Regions from separate parts of the Homo sapiens genome. Here region 2 is linked to region 1. The links come from fine-mapping of genetic effects on gene expression. A gene starts in region 1. The other region holds a variant in brackets. All regions are shown on one strand. Distances are from middle to middle.

Region 1 (2,911 bases):
GTAAACATTGCCGGATACATTTCCATACGTTTTTAAAGAATAGAGGAGGAGGAAGAGGAGGGAAAAAAAGGAAAATAAATAAATAAACGTGTGGAGCAATCAACTCCAGAATCACACCAATATTTCTAGGTCTAATGGCCACACAGCAAAATCAGCCTCAGTTATCCCATTGTCTTCATATCTTAAGACCTAAAAATGGGAACACAGGATTGTGGGAATAGGTTAGGATTTCTCAGTTTCCAAATTTTTCTGTGAGACTTTTATGCTAACTCTAGCACGGCTTATGTAAAATGTTCGTGATTTGGGGGTGGATCTAAACCACCTCAGATCTATAACCTCTGAGATAAGTGGGGCTGAGCTGCCAGAATGCCATCCGCCATTTATCCCACCCAGAGACACAGGGGTAATTGTGGTTCTGATGCAGCCAGTTCGCCTACCCTGTAACGCTTATTTGCTAAAATAAACCAACCTAAGAGCTAGCCATCCAATGCAGAGGGCAGGGCCATTTTCGGTGCAGAACATACCTGGCCTAGCCAAGGGTGACAGGGTCCTGCCTTCAAAAACAGGCCAGTCACATGAAAGAGTGAAGATGGGCGCATGTGGAGGAGGACAACAGGCCACTGCCTGAGGCCTTCACATTTAAGCTACACAAAAATGCTTTTCCAGGTGAGCAGAGCTCTCGGGCTGCCTGCTTGTGACCCCTGCTCCTGTCAGTCACGAGAACAGGGCGAAGGAGGCGAAAACAGTGCGGAGAATAAGTCCGTAGGACAGTGAGTTCGGAAAATGCCTTCTTCAGTGTTCCAAGGTGCCCACGTGAACTGAGGAGGGCAGAGCAAAACCCCTTATTTTCGGGTCTGTGCAGGGTCCCCGCTAGGAAGGGGCAGCCCTTGAGTTTCATGTTGGTCGGTTATTAAGCGGCTCCCCCGTGAGCCCCGCCCAATGCCTGTGCGCTCAAACTAGCAGCGTCCGAGGAACGCGTTAACTGGGAGAAGTGAACTGAGGGGGTCCGGCGGCCGCTGAGGAGGGGAGCGCGCGGGAGGAGGGGCGAGGAGCCCGGAGGCGGGCGCGGCTGGCAGCTTAGAGGGCCCGGGCGGAGGCCTGAGAGCAGGGCTGGAGGGGCGGAGGACCGGGGAGACCCGCCCGCGGCGTTCCCGGCCGGTTCTGAGCAGGCGCCGTGGCAGCGCCCGCGCCCCCTGCCCGCCCTCCGCCGTCGCCAGGACGCAGGCTCGCGTCAGGGCTGGCGGTAGGGCCCGCAGCTGTCGGCCTGGCGTCTTCACCCCGCGCAGTCGGCCTCGCCTAGCCTTCTCGCGCCTGACTGGCCGGACCCTGCCCCTGGCGGAGGTAACTGCCCGCGGATTCCTTACCCCGCGATCCTGGCCTCCTCGTAAGCTCCCCGGACCCGGGCGTCCTCGGTCTCCCCTCATCTACTCTTCTGTCGGGCAGGTCCGCGACCTTCCGCCTCCCGGGCCGTCTCCCGCCGCACCCGGCCCTGGTACATCCCCACTACCCAGTCCGGGCCCGTCCTCGCTCTGGGCCTACCCCAGCCTCCCAGCGTCGCCTGCTGACGGAGCGCGGGAGCCCCAAGGGGCCGGGGTCACCCGGCCGGCGTGGGTGGTGCCAGGCTCGGGCCACACCTCGGCACCGGACCCGAGTCCCCCAGCTTCTCGAGCAGGATCCGGAGGAATAGAACGTCAATTTTCCTCGCTCTTAGCAATTTTAAGATTGACTAATGGATTTAGGGTATGTCAGTGCATAAAGTTCCCAGTATTTTTTCACTCAATAATTTTAGCAGCGCTGATACTATTGACTGGATTTGTTATTTCATTAGGAGCTGCAAATGATGCTTTTCTAATGCCGGCGTTTCTCTGGCATTTGGTTAACCCTTTTGTGAGAATTTATTTTATTTGCAATTTTATTTATTTATTTTTGAGCCGGAGTCTTCGCTGCGTTGCCCACGCTGGAGTGCAGTGGCTCTCACAGGCACAATCACAGCTCACTGCAGCCTCGAACTCTCTTGTCCTCAAGCGATCTTCCCATCTCAGCCTCCGTGCTGACTGATAGCTAGCATCTTGATAGATCTTTGTGTGCTGTCTCTGAGTAGTTTTTCTTTTAAAGCTATTTTATTAAAAAAACAAAAAAACAAGCCCATCTAATTTGGCCGGGCACAGTGGATCACGCCTGTAATCCCAGCACTTTGGGAGGCTGAGTCGGGCGGATCACCCAAGGTCAGGGGTTCGAGACCAGCCTGGCCAACATGGTGAAACCCGGTTTCTACTAAAAATACAAAAAAATTAGTCCGGTGTGGTGGTGCATGCCTGTAATCCCAGCTACTCGGGAGGCTGAGGCAAGAGAATCGCTTGAACCCGGGAGGCGGAGGTTGCAGTGAGCCGAGATCGCGCCACTGCACTGCAGCCTGGGCTACAAGAGCAAAACTTCAACTCAGAAATAAAATATAAATCAAAACTTTATGAAAATTGTCAGTTAAGATCTTCAGTGGTCCATGCGCAGTGGATCGTGCCTGTTATCCCAGCACTTTGGGAGGACGAAGTGGATGGATCACTTGAAGTCAGGAGTTTGAGACCAGCCTGGCCAACATGGTGAAACCCCATCTCTACTTAAAATTAGCCAGGCGTGGTGGCACACGCTTGTAGTCCCAGCTACTCGGGAGGCTAACGCAGGAGAATCACTTGAATCCGGGAGGCGGAGGTTGCAGTGAGCTGAGATCATATCACTGCACTCCAGCTGGGGCAACAGAACGAAACTCTTGTCTCAAAAAAAAAAAAAAAATGCCCAGTGAATATTATGCATCATTTATATTTTATTACTATTATTGTTTACAGAATCTTGGGACTGTTTTACTTAATTGGTCATTGATAGCTTAACAAACATGGAGATAAGATTAGAAATCTTG
Region 2 (2,911 bases), 37 kb before region 1:
TCTGCCCTCTGCCCACTCTTGCTGTTCTTCCTTGTTTTCTACCTCTTTATTGTCTCAAATAGAAAATATGAAAATCATTACATTGTCCTCCCTTCAAAACCAGTTTTTAAGCAAGTCTACTTGATATCCCCCATATCTGCCCAATTGTCTCATTACTTTAGGCTTTCAGGGTGGATTAAAGTTACTCTGTTTCACTTGGATGCTTAAAACAGTGTCAAAGTGGTCTTCCTGCCTCTACTTTGACCTCTCCATCTCTGTTTCCACACCAAGGACAGAGTGGTCTTTTTAAAATCTAAATTTAGCCCTTGAGACGCAGCTTGAGCTTGAGGCATGCAGGGCTGGAGACACGGCAGACCTTCAACCCAGAGCAATATGAGGTGGTGAGCAAAAAAATGGAAAGGAAACAATAGAATAAAAAAGTTGGGGCCGGGCACAGTGGCTTACGCCTGTAATCCCAGCACTTTGGGAGGCCGAGGCAGGCAGATCACCTGAGGTTGGGAGATCGAGACCAGTCTGATCAACATGGAGAAACCCTGTTTCTACTAAAAATACGAAAATGAGCTGAGTGTGGTGGTGCATGCCTATAATCCCAGCTACTCAGGAGGCTGAGGCAGGAGATTTGCTTGAACCTGGGAGTCGGAGGTTGTGGTTAGCCAAGATCGCGCCACTACATTCCAGCCTGGGCAACAAGAGCGAAACTCCATCTCCAAAAAAAAAATTGATGCAGAGCCTGAAGAATTTGTAGTGGAAAAAGTACTGGATCAATGTGTGATGAATGGTAAGGTAGTGCATTTCCTGATGTGGAAGGGATTTATAGATGCTGAAAGTACTTGGGAACCTGAAGAAACTTAAGCTTGTCAAGAGTTACTTGGAACATTTAATTCTCAAAAAAGCTGTTAAAGAAAAAGATGATACAAGAAGAAAATATTTACCTGACAGTTGGATAACATAAAATCAAGGAAAGAGATACTGCAGACAAACCAAGAGACCTTGATCCTGAAAAAAATAATTGGCTATGCAGACAGCAGTGGAGAATTGATGATACTCATGAAATGGAAAATTCAGATAAAGCAGACTTGGTGTTAGCAAAAGAACAAAACATGAAGTGTATATAAAACCGGGCTCTTGCTTTTTGCTTTACTAATGTGAAGAAATAGCTGCATTCTAATAAAAATCAAGTTTGATATGTTCATTTTGAAAGTAGTTCGGGTTATGGCTGGGCACGGTGGCTCACATCTGTAATCCCAGCACTTTGAGAGGCCAAGGTGGATCACCTGAGGTCGGGAGTTCGAGACCAATCTGACCAATATGGAGAAACCCCATCTCTACTAAAAATACAAAATTAGCCAGGTGTGGTGGTGCATGCCTGTAATCCCAGCTACTTGGGAGGCTGAGGCAGGAGAATCACTTGAACCCAGGAGGCAGAAGTTGCAGTGAGCCGAGATCGTGCCATTGCACTCCAGCCTGGGCAACAAGAGCGAAAGTCCATCTCAAAAAAAAAAAAAAAGTAATTTGGGTTCATGACCTGCCTCATCAACATGGTGAAACTCTCTCTACTAAAAGTACAAAAATTAGGCCAGGCACAACGGCTCACACCTGTAATCCCAGCACTTTAGGAGACCGAGGCAGGCAGATCACCTGAGGTCAGGAGTTCAAGACTAGCCTGGCCAACATAGTGAAACCCC[G/A]TCTCTACCGACAAATATGAAAATTAGCCAGGTGTGGTGGTGGGCACCTGTAATCCCAGCTACTCAGGAGGCTGAGGCAGGAGAATCGCTTGAACCCAGGAAGTGGAATTTGCAGTGAGCCGAGATCATGCCACTGCACTCCAGCCCAGGTGACACAGCGAGACTCCATCTCGGGAAGAAAAAAAAAAATTAGCCAGGTGTGGTAGTACATGCCTGTAATCCAGTCACTTGGGAGGCTGGGGCAAGAGGATAGCTTGAAACCGAGAGGCAGTGGTTGCCGTGAGCCGAGATCATGCCACTGCACTCCAGTCCGGGTGACAGATTGAGACCCTGACTCAAACAAAAATAAATAAAAGTAGTTTGGGGAGAGTCATTGGGATTTTGTTTTGTTTGCATCAATAGCACTGGTTACTTTCAACAAATGAAAGCTTTCTGTGGTTGCTTCCCTTATCGGAAAAGAATGTTTGATACGATGGCATATTATTTCCTTGGCATTAGAGAACAGCTTTTCTAGATGTCGAGGGTAATTTCCGTAGTCATTACTCAATTAGAATTTGTTATCATATACTTAGGGACCATTGTGGTTTGTGTGTGTGTGTGTATACGTAATATGGATATATAAACATTTTTCTTTTGTTGTTGTTTTTGAGATGAAGTCTTGCTCCTGTCCCCCAGGCTGGGGTGGAATGGCGCGATCTCGGCTCACTGCGACCTCCGCCTCAGCTCCCTGTAGCTGGGATTACAGGCGTCCACCACCACACCTGGCTAATTTTTGTATTTTTAGTAGAGATGGGGTTTCACCTTGTTGGCCAGGCTGGTCTTGAACTCCTGACCTCGGCATCCCAAAGTGCTGGGATTACAGGCTTGAGCCACCGTGCCTGGCCGTCTTTTGTTGTTTTTAACCATTCACCAAAACAAAAAATCATGAGTAAGCCCATATTTCTGAGATGCCATCATTCAGAGGATCCTACAAAATAAATCACTTCATGTTAAATTGAAAATTTTCCTGAAGTCATGACATTAAATAGATGATTCTTTAATTAATTGCATAATTTAAATTGGATATTTTAATTTATTTATGTATTTATTTTGAGATGGAATCTCACTCTCACCCAGGCTGGAGTGCAGTGGCATGATCCTGGCTCACTGTAATCTCCACCTCCTAGGTTCAAGCGATTCTCCTGCCTCAGCCTCCTGAGTAGCGGGGACTACAGGCATGCACCACC

What was found. PIP is the estimated chance that this variant, and not a neighbour inherited with it, causes the effect. A credible set is the group of variants that fine-mapping cannot tell apart.
Region 2: its variant is the best candidate, but not a certain one, in a credible set for the expression of CPLANE1 in whole blood (TOPMed, PIP 0.81).

What each region holds. Positions count from the first base shown.
Region 1 is chr5:37,247,675-37,250,585 of GRCh38, reverse strand. It overlaps CPLANE1 (ciliogenesis and planar polarity effector complex subunit 1), which reads left to right and starts at 1,210. Exons shown (of 53, transcript NM_001384732.1): 1 at 1,210-1,341; 2 at 2,841-2,911. The coding sequence starts at 2,888. It overlaps CPLANE1-AS1 (CPLANE1 antisense RNA 1), which reads right to left and starts at 1,540. Exons shown (of 2, transcript NR_134263.1): 1 at 1,365-1,540; 2 at 1-189. RefSeq lists silencers at 890-1,369, 1,570-1,709.
Region 2 is chr5:37,284,716-37,287,626 of GRCh38, reverse strand. No RefSeq gene overlaps it. Among named protein-coding and RNA genes, the nearest start is that of CPLANE1, 37 kb to the right of the region's middle. The variant G/A (reference allele first, on the strand shown) is at 1,686.